Regions from separate parts of the Homo sapiens genome. Here region 1 is linked to region 2. Evidence: fine-mapped QTL for protein levels in blood plasma. Region 2 holds a variant in brackets. A gene starts in the other region. All regions are shown on their reverse strands.

The links. A credible set is the group of variants that fine-mapping cannot tell apart. PIP is the posterior inclusion probability: the model's chance that the variant is causal. Protein levels are from antibody-based Olink assays in UK Biobank. Linkage for the fine-mapping came from a reference panel and not from the study's own genotypes, which makes the PIPs less certain.
Region 1: LACRT starts here. The variant in region 2 is the best candidate, but not a certain one, in a credible set for the plasma level of the LACRT protein (UK Biobank, PIP 0.53).

The regions. Positions count from the first base shown.
Region 1 is chr12:54,631,751-54,637,129 of GRCh38, reverse strand. LACRT (lacritin) reads left to right here and starts at 2,235. Exons shown (of 5, transcript NM_033277.2): 1 at 2,235-2,346; 2 at 3,897-3,950; 3 at 4,749-4,889; 4 at 5,291-5,379. The coding sequence starts at 2,289.
Region 2 is chr7:7,325,994-7,331,372 of GRCh38, reverse strand. The region is part of intron 1 of LOC107986764 (a long non-coding RNA gene); the gene reads right to left. Among named protein-coding and RNA genes, the nearest start is that of LINC03016, 74 kb to the right of the region's middle. The variant A/G (reference allele first, on the strand shown) is at 2,151.

The DNA.
Region 1 (5,379 bases), not on the chromosome of region 2:
CCCTTTTCCCACCCTCCCATCTCCCACCTGTGTCTCCCATTGGCCAAACTCAACTCGAAGCTAGAGGGCATGGGAGCCCAGGTGATACAGCCCATAGAGGCATCCTTCCAGACCAGTGCAGAGATGAGAGAGAATAAACCTGAGGCAGAGGGGAGAGAGGTACAACGAGCAGCCCATGAGACAAGACACAGATCAGCGAACTGACAGTCATCATGGAGGTCAGATAACCTAGAAAACAAGACATCACACAGAGCAGCCCCTCACCCATATCCATGAGGTCCGTCAAGACATTGCACAGAGCAGCCTCTCACCCATATCCATGAGGTCTGCCTCTTTAATCTATGCACCCAATTCTTTCCCAGGCTCTATAATTTGGGGTAACATTTCTCTGGGCCCTGTTATAGAATAATGAAAATTTTCTATAAAACAAATGTCCTTACTTTCACCTCATCCCTATTTATGTAAATGCTTGCCTCTTTAATTACTGAGGCCAGGAGGAAGATTTGGGAGAGGAAAGGGCTATGCGGTGACATTTGGAAAGACCCTGCTCTGTGACAGTTCTAGTGTTGACGCCAAAGTTCTCATTTCCTCTTAGAAAAGTCTTGTGCAAATAGCATAATTTGCTCCTGTTGACTTTTTTAATGTGCTCATGGAGACTGCTCGGGATCTAGATCTGTTTGGGATCTGCAGGACTTCTCCTTCTGCAGTGTACACACACGTGCACACACGTATGTGCACATACCCAGGGCACTGGTGCCATCAAAACTTTCTCTTGTTCTTCAGCCTTCCCCATTCCAGGTAAGGCCACCACCACCTTCAAGGCTCCCAGGCCCAGACCCTCAGGCAGGTAGCAATTGCCAAGGCTTTAATGTCCCACCCCATTAATTTTATCTTCCTTTATCTCCTGAAAAGATTAATGTTCTAAACCCTGGCACCCAAAACACCCTCATGTTGAAAACTCTTCAATACCCCCTTCTCACACTCATCTTCAGAGCTACCATGAGGCAGAGAAGCCTCCGGAATCAGCCCACATGGGGCTGGGTGAATGCCAACACCAAGCAAGGGGAAAGTCACAAATTGACATCCAGCACCTTATTCTCCACCCTTCAGCCCCTCAACTGACTCCTGCTCCACGGCCCGTTCTATTAATATCTAGCATTTAGCACCAGCCTGGACAAAAACCTACTTGGAAAGATGGTACAAGAACCCCACACAACTCCATAGAACTTCGCTGTCTAAAAAAATGCTTTGCCGTATATTATCCCACTTAATCTCCACCACTATGCTGTACATAGGAGCCACAACTCCTAGACAACAAATAAAAATCCTATCACTTTTCAAATCCTAACATTTTCATATGACAAAGCCAGAACTCAAAATCCAGACCTCTAGAGTCCCAGATCAGGAAAGGAAGAAACGCCAAGTCAAAGAGAAGCTTCTTTAGAATAATCTGCTTTTCTGGATTATTCACACCATGGGTCAGCTCCCCACTTGAAGTCAGAACCAAGCTCCAATTTCAGTGAACCACCATCATGCTTTGACCAGGAGATTCTCTCAGAAATGTGGGGTCCCATTGAGTAGGCCTGAAGACAGAGATTGACAGGCCTATGTGAGCCTGGAGGAGTTCTTTTTAGGGGCTGGATAATGTCAAGAACAGAGAACAACTCCAGAGAAGGCACACACGCCTTCAAACCCATCCCCTCATGGGGAGAAAGCAGCCAGGAACTCAGGCCTCAAGTGTTCTAGGTGTGGTCTCCCAAGGAAACGGGCTCACTTAGTTTGGGGAAACCTTCAAACCCTGCACTGAGTCCTATGTAGACTGGGACAGAAGGTGGACAATGTAATCCCCTGAGCCCTCAACCTCCTCCTGGAGAGATGACAAGATTAAGATTTCTCTACCAGAACCCTCAACAGACACATCCCAGAATCTCCCCAAGTGAAATGTGCTCTACCTACCGTCCCTGAGAGCCCAGGGGTGTGAACCCAGAGGGCAGGTGTGGTGGGGAAGGGAGGAGGGAGAAAGAAAAGGGATGGCTGGGAGTTAGAGAAAGGCTCCTATCCAGGACCTGCCTGCAAGGATCCCAGGTATCAGCCAGCCCAACCTAGCCCTTGTTGACTTAGCAGGTGACAGTTTGGGGAAGAAGGGGAGGAGGATGCGGAAGTCACACCTCTCCAGGCTTGGTTCCCATTGGCCCTTGATATCCTTAAAAGGGCCCAGCAATTTCAGCATCCTTATTCCCCAGACCTTCTGCAGATTCTGTGGTTATACTCACTCCTCATCCCAAAGAATGAAATTTACCACTCTCCTCTTCTTGGCAGCTGTAGCAGGGGCCCTGGTCTATGCTGGTGAGTATGGCCTTTCCTCTGCGCCCCACAAGAGTCCTCCCAGTCCAAGGAGCCCCTCACTCCTGCCTTCACCCCTCTCCTCCTCTCTCAGTGCTATTCTGGTTTCCCTGCCTCTGCAAGTGACTCCTCTCCCAGTTCTCCACACGTGGCCTCTGCACCCCACTGGCCAGAGGAACCCAGAACTCTCTGGCCTCTGCCTGCCCTCCCAGCTCATCTCCTCACACACCATTGTTTACCCACTATGCCTCAGCTACACTGGCTTCTCTGGTGTCCCCTGCATGTAGTTGAGCAGGGTGTCCCCTACACGAGGGTGCCCAGGCAAGGAGTGGTAGAAGCTAAAATCTGGCCGACACTCTACTTGCCAAGCAGTGAGCCTGGCCCCTGGCTGTGTCTCTTAGGAGGAAGGGATGCCTTTTTTTTTTTTTTTTTTTTGAGACCGAGTCTCCCTCTGTTGCCCAGGCTGGAGTGCAGTGGCACGATCTCTGCTCACTGCAACATCCACCTCCTGGGTTCCAGCGATTATCTTGCCTCAGCCTCCTGGGTAGCTGGGACTACAGGCTCATGCCACCTTGCCCAGCTAATTTTGTATTTTTAGTAGAGACGGTGTTTCACCATGTTGGCCAGGTTGGTCTCGAACTCCTGACCTCAGGTGATCCGACTGCCTTGGCCTCCCAAAGTGTTGGAATTACAGGCGTGAGCCACCGTGCCCTGCTGGGATGCCTTTTTTGATCCACAGAAGCACTATTTGGGCCATGATGATCCTGCTGTTCCTTGAACATCAGGATCTTCCTTCTTGTCCTTTCCTCGTCTAGAATGCTTTCCCTCTCCCTGGCCCCTTCCCCCAACCAACTCTAATGTCACCTGGCCAATGATTTTTCATCTAGAAAATCTCAGTTTACATATAATTCCCCAAAAAGGCCTTCCATGCACATGCGGAACAAATCAGATCCATGTGCCCTTCTCGCACCAGGCTGCACGTTCCCTTCCAGCACTGTCACACCAGCCATTAAATAATTTCGTAAAAGGACAGATGTAAGCTCTGTCAGGGCAGGGGTCTTGTCTGCCCTCTTCAGCACTGCACCTCCATCTCTTGGCACAGAGCTTTGCATAAATGTTGTGTTGAAAGAATAAAGGGAATCAAGGCTGGGGTCTCAATCCTGCAAATCGCTCAAATATGGCCCCATAACCCCCACATACTGTCCTCCTCCACCACAGAGGAGGTTGAGCCCCTCTGACCATGGCCAGCTCCATGACAGACACCTCAGGGAAGCCTACCAAGCCAGGGGCCAGTCAGGAGGAAGGCACTGTTCCAAGAGACATTACACTTCTCAGAGGGGAAGTTATTTCAAAAGCCACAGGAGTTAAACATCAGAGAGTGCCCCAGTAGACCCGCTGATATGGTGGAAGGGCATGTCCAACCCAAAGGGAAATTGATCCCCTTCTATCCATGAGCATTCCCAGGAGATAAGCTTTGGGAATGGGAGGGGAGGGTGGCTCGAGTAGGTCCGGTTCGGTCCTTGCTCTCATCTGGCATGTTTCCCCCATTGCAGAAGATGCCTCCTCTGACTCGACGGGTGCTGATCCTGCCCAGGAAGCTGGGACCTGTGAGTCCTCCTCTCCCTGCTGCCCTAGCCCTCGTTGGGAAGGTTTAACAGTTAGGGATGTGAGTGGTGGCTGGGAGAAGAAGCCAGTGGGAGGAGATCTGGATTCTGTGCTTGGTGGTAATGGGGAGGGGCAGGTAATATAATAAAGAAGGTGGCATGGGTTGAAATGGTACAAGGCTAAGGACAAAAGAGGATGACCCAGAGAGGCAAGGACAATAGGGAGCATGGGGAAAAGGTTATTGTGAATAAAAGGGAGAGAAACATGAGGTTAAGTGGTAAGGGCAATGTCTCACATGGCATTAATACCTTCACCTGCAAACACCTCCCATTACTCCCAATTCCTTAGCAAGATAACCATTATCTGGCCTCTAACCTCATTTTCCAACCCCATTTTCCATGACTCTCTTTTATGTCGCACCCACATCAGCTAAATTGAACTTGTTTCCATTCCCCACACATGCCTTCGCCTGACCTCTTACTCACTGCCTGCCCCCAGGGAAGCCCCTTTGGTACATCCTCTCCTGCTAACATCCTGCCTTCAAGATCCAGCTTCTCTATGAAGTGCTCCCCGATTCTCACCATCCCCTAGTCCAAATCCTTCCCCAACCCTGCCCGCTGCATTCCAAGAGACACACAGCATGCAGAAATGCTATCTCCCTTAAGGGGGCAGCGTTTAAGCCATATCACTTCTGTATCCTGGCACCCAGCACACATTAGGTATCCTGGGGCCCTGCAACCCATTCCAAAAGAAACAAACACTTTCACTTTGCTAAAATCCATCAATTTGTGCATTCACAGCTAAGCCTAATGAAGAGATCTCAGGTCCAGCAGAACCAGCTTCACCCCCAGAGACAACCACAACAGCCCAGGAGACTTCGGCGGCAGCAGTTCAGGGGACAGCCAAGGTCACCTCAAGCAGGCAGGAACTAAACCCCCTGAGTAAGTCTCTGTCTCTATGCCAGATCAACAACCTAGAAAAGTCTCTGGCTGCAGGCCCACATCACACCTCCACGCACAGAGATAAGCCTGGTGAGAAGCAGGTAGACTCAAACAGCTGAACACAAAGGCACAAATGGGATTGTGCATTGCACCCACACACAACGTTTTCACAATAGTAGATGTTGCAGCCTGCACAATACATGGTTTCTGTCCTGGCTCACACAACTTCCTATGAGAGAAGTGCTGGAGCCCTCAGCAAAACTTCTGCACTTTAGGACTTTCTGTAGGGATGATGTCCTGGGTGGAGTGGGGGTGGGGGGCGGGTGCAGGTGGGGCAATGCAGAGTTCTCTTTAAATGAGGTGATTTTTCTGCTGATGTGATTGTTCTGCTCCAAAATTAGAATCCATAGTGGAGAAAAGTATCTTACTAACAGAACAAGCCCTTGCAAAAGCAGGAAAAGGAATGCACGGAGGCGTGCCAGGTGGAAAA
Region 2 (5,379 bases):
TTTGCAAAATTATGTTGATTCAAGAGATAATTCACAATTCTCAAATATCTGTAAAACTAACTGGTTTTCAGTTTACTTTAAAACTGCACATGGTGGCACCCATCCTGTTCTGGCAGAGGAGGATGGGGCATACCAGGTCACAGCCCCATCTGGTGTCCAGATTCATCCCTGCTGTGGACAGAGACATCAGGCTGTCACAGACTGACGCCAGTGGACACTTCCATCACCCCACCAGGACCCCTTGCTCAGATTAAAGACTCCGGAAGCATCCTTCTGATTATGATTCCCATGAGATGTGCCTATGGGGAGAGATGGATCTGATCCTATATTTCTTATTTGCCTACTGAAGAATAGGAGGGACTGCAATTCCTTAATTTGAGTGATTTTTCAAATACTTGAGCCAATGTAATTGCTCTCAGGAGCTGGGAGGATAAAACATAAGAAAAGAAACACAAAATTTGCCCCAGACTGATGGTTAATATGCAGAAGTCATTTAAGTGGAATGAAACATTTAATTTCAGAATATATTGAAAATGTGAGGATCATTTTAAAAAGCAGGAGAATAAGTCTTATGCCAAATGTTTTTCTTCTACTTTCAGAATCTCAGGATTTTTTGTAGCTTTATTAAATGGTATATGCCTGGGCTTTGCTGCTTAATTATTCCATTTTCTCTGGAACTCTCACTCTGAACCATTCTAGGATCTAATGGCGCACTGGAATTTTAAGCATGTGAAGTGGATAATCGAGAAACTTAGTTCTGTTTCCTTCCTCCAATATTTCAGAGAGGAATTACAGACATATCTGGCACAGAGATAGGTTAGATAAGATGGTCATAGAGTCACTTGAAGGGAAACAAACTTGCCAAACAGGTGGAGAAAACAAACCGCTTGAGAGTGCAGAAACGGCATCTGCAGCTTTGGTTAGGACATCCTGCAGCAGACAGGACGAAGAGCAGAAGGGAAAATCCCCAAATTATGCACAAGCACAGAAACCCATGATTAGTGTCCTTGACCATGATTAGTGTCCATGACCTGTGCTCATTATAATAGTAAAAAACACACTCCTGGGTAGAGAATTAAGATGCTAATAAGAAGACATGCCATATATGTGATAGCATTGCACATGCACGCCCAGGAGACCACCTGCAACATGCTTAAGCCAACAGCCAGGCTCATTCCCACCCTCTTATGAATAATCACATAAGCTTTCCATAAATGAGATTTCCTAATGTCAGAGGGGACTGTCTTATTCTCAAGGAACCCAGTTTGACCTGGCTTGCAGAGTGTCCTTTCGCTTTGCAATAAATGTCTTTGCCTGCTTTTACTTTGGACTCACTCTCAAATTCTTTCATGTGGGTCAAGAACATGAAGCAGCCCACTGACAGCAGCACCATCTACAACACAGAGCCCTTCACACTTTGGGCAGAATGCAGGATTTCTCCACCTTTGTATCTTGGCCTGAGACAATAAATGGGGCTCATACCTGGGAGCAAAGAAAAAAAGAGAAGTGGCAGGAGGCTTTTGGGTTGGAAGAGGACAGGACCCTCTTAAATCTGGAAGGGGCAAAACCAATAATAACTTTCCTTATTCCATTGATGGTATTGGCTCTCAGTTCTAAAAACAGAAGATGCTATCTGTGGTCTAGAACTGGACATCTTTGAAAATTTCCAGTCTCTATCCACAAGCCCCTCTGCCCCCTCCCTACTACTAATATCAATAAGAAGAAGGAGGGCTTGCCAGACCTCCGTCAAATGCTCAAAATTCCAGGAGGTGTGTTTCTTGGCATGCTGGTTCCTAGAATTCAATTCCTGTTGGCAGTGGTTTCTCAGCAGTGCCTGGGGGACAAAGGCTTAGTGAAAAGTCTGGGCTTGTTTAATACCTTGCTGGCTCTGAGGAGCTAGTGCCAGAGCTGTATAATCACATCCCCATGGTGCTGTGAGAAAAGAGGCTTTGCTTTGGTCTCAGTGACACAGGTCAGCACTCTTGTCCACTCCATCCTCAGACTCAGCTCCATCAACTACAGATGTACCTATAGAGTCTATTTTAAAATCTGGAGTTTAATGAACAAAATGCTAGAAGAGAAATGTAAAGTTTTAAGCAGACATAAAGAGAAGTTGCCATTGAGGTAAATTTCATCTCCTTGGGCAACAC[A/G]TGTTACTGAGAGACTAAACTAATTCAGCTGAGTGTATACGGGGGCGACGGGGTTGAGATGATGAGTTTGTTTATAAACCTTTATGGTCACATGCCCTTAGACTCAGCTCCTGGGGAAATCATACTTCTAACCATTGTACAATGAGGGTATGTGCAGCCCAAACAGGGCTTGTGTATGCAAGCACCACCTATATGCTAATAAGCTTATTAAATTTTACTTCCTCTACTGTTCTATCAAACACCTGAGCAGAAACCCCACACCACTGCAATCATTTGCACATTCTTCTCCCACTACAGGCTTTTTGAGGGTTGGAACCCATGTCTCTTCTTTGTCTCCTAAGCACCAATGTATAATACTTATGGAGAAAATGAACAAAATCTGAAGTAGGAGTTGGTGGAAGGAGGCAGTGAAAGACCATAGAAAGTTTTTTTCTTTCTGTAATTAGAAAATCATGGCCAGGTGCAGTGGCTCACGCCTATAATCCTAGCACTTTGGGAGGATTACTTGACCTCTGGAGTTTGAGACGAGCCGGGGCAAGATGGTGAGACCTTGTCTTTATAAAAAAAAAAATTCTTTTAAGTTAGCTGGGCATGAGGGCACACTCCTACAGTCCCAACTACTTGGGAGGCTGAGGTGGGAGGATCCTTTGCACTCGGGAGTTTAAGGCAGCAGTGAGCTATGATCACATCACTGCACTCTAGCCTGGGTGACCAAGTGAGACCCTGTCTTATGAAAGAGAGAAAAAAACAGAAAAAGGAAAAAAAAAAAAGAATTATCAGCATTGGCGAACTGTTTGTTATTTGGAGAATATTTTAAATAGTGAAAGAAATCAGAGAACTTTCAAAAGATAACTGGAATGATGAAAATGTCCCATTTTGATATGTGTGATGGTTAATTCCTTGTGTCAACTTGCCCAGATTTCAGTGCCCAGATGTTTGGTCAAACGTTGGTCTAGATGTTGCTATAAAGATGTTTTTTAGATCTAAGGATATTTCAATCAGCAGACTTTGAGTAAAGCCAATTACCTTTTGTGGTGTGGGTGGGCCTCATCCAAACAATTGAAGGCCTTAAGAGAAACAACTGAAGTCTCCTGAGGAAGACGGAATTCTGCCTCCTATCTTCCTTCCCACTTCAGCTGCAACATCAACTCTTCTCTGGGTCTCCAGCCTGCCAGGCTGCCCTACAAATTTTAGATTTACCAGCTTCCCTTTCCCCCTTCCCTTCCTTCTCTCTCTCCCCCATCTCCCTCCTCCTCTCGAGCCCCCTTTCTCTCCATCCTACTGGTTCTGTTTAGCTGGAGAACTCTAATACAATATGTAACAGTTACCTTTTGAGAACGTAATTGGGGATGGACAATGAATATGTTGCGTGTCAGTGCTGCTCTTGAGCCCTTGAAGTATGAAGACTAAGAACAAGTCCTAAAAGGAAACGTGGGAGGCACCTGGACATTTAATCTCCCTGATGGAGTACACATGAAAATCCTTCTAATGTAATCACTCTGGATCTCATTTTCAGCCACTGACCTTCTTTAAGGGGGAAGATCAAAAATGCACCACCCTTAGTCTACTGACTGATTAGCTGGTAAGGCAAAAGTGGCATTGAATCAGAGAGACATGTCCAAACAAGTAGCAAATCTTTTTTTCCCCTGACAGCCTAGATTCAGTCAATAATTAAATTTGTATTGAATGCTGACTATATTTAGAGTACTGAATTAGCTGTTGTTGAGACTGAAAAAGAAGTAAAAGACATTGAATCCCCAACGAACCTGCAAACTAAAGGAGTCAGTTTAGGATAGATCCACACATAGGTGGCAAATCAATTACAATGTTTCATAAAATCACTGTTGTTAGGGAACGTCAGGTGCTATTTAAATGAATTCTTCTTGTAATCTAAACTCTTCTGTCCAATACTTAAATTTTATTCTAATGTAAACAATATTGGGGATTTTCATGAAGTATGTGTATTCCCTATTATTAAGGAAATCCAAAAAAGTTGCTCTATCAGTTAGGCATCTTTATAACTCCAAGATTGACTTAGTAGAAACATTTAAGAAATAGGGAGTTTTAGATGAATAAGACCTAGACTTTTCCCCTAATGGTTAATATCCTAAATTGTTTAAAGTTTATGTTTCTTACCATAAATCTTAATAGAAGTTTATAGTTTATTAATTGTTACTGAGTCCAAGGCTTTTATTTTACAAATATCAGAACTTAGTTCCTGAAGTTAAAATGATTTGCTCATAGTGATTTTCAGCTAGTCACTTTAGTGAGTTAATCTAACTAGTCACACAGCTAATTATAAAGGAAAGTAACTACCCCAAAACAGTTCTAATTTCAATAAATAGGTTGCTATTGTTTTAACTGCCAAAGTTATTGGTCAGGGTGGCTGGGAATGGGGTAACTGACCAGGTAGGATCCTTCACAAAGAGCCCACTCCCAAGGGCTGGTCAGTTCTGGTTCAGCCTCAGGGTGCTGACCATTCTGTGGTTTGTTAAATCCTCAGAGTCTAATAGTGAAGAAACAATAACTTCCAGCCTTTTTGGTTCCAGTTCATTCCTGGGATACAGGTATCCAGAAAGGTAGATCAGCTATGAGTCAAACCTATGGGTTTGGTTGACTCCAGCCAGCCAAATTACCGAAACAGAAACTCAACTTCTTTTCATATAGGAAATATTTCAGAAATATGCATCAGATAGCAGTAGCTACTCGCAATACTGCGTTTACTTTTGGACTGTTTAACAGGGTGTCCTTTAAAGCAGAGTTGAGATTCAAGAGTTGTTCACGCAGTCTCTTGAATGTGTAACCTAGACCTTGGATATGACCTAGAACCAAGTGGCTTAGAATTTTAAATCTACACTTCATCAAAATCCTAGCTTTCTTTTCCACAATCTTAAGATCCAGATAAGCCCTCTTCAGTCCTGTGTTCTCAAGTTGCAAACCGTAACTGTAGAGGTATCCAAGATAAGATTCACTAGGATTTATACCCATTTCCATGCATAATGCTGTAAGAATTGTTTTGCAATTATCATTGACTGTTACTTGTAAAACACCATTTCTTCTTTATGTTAATACTGAATCTCATCTGTCATTTTCACAATGCAATTTCTTCTAATTCATCAGTAATTTCAGACCCCTTAAGAATTAGGTTTGAGAATGACAGCACATCAATATATTAGGAAAAAAAAGATGGAACTCAAGTGCCTTCGTAAGAATTAATGTAATTGGTGAC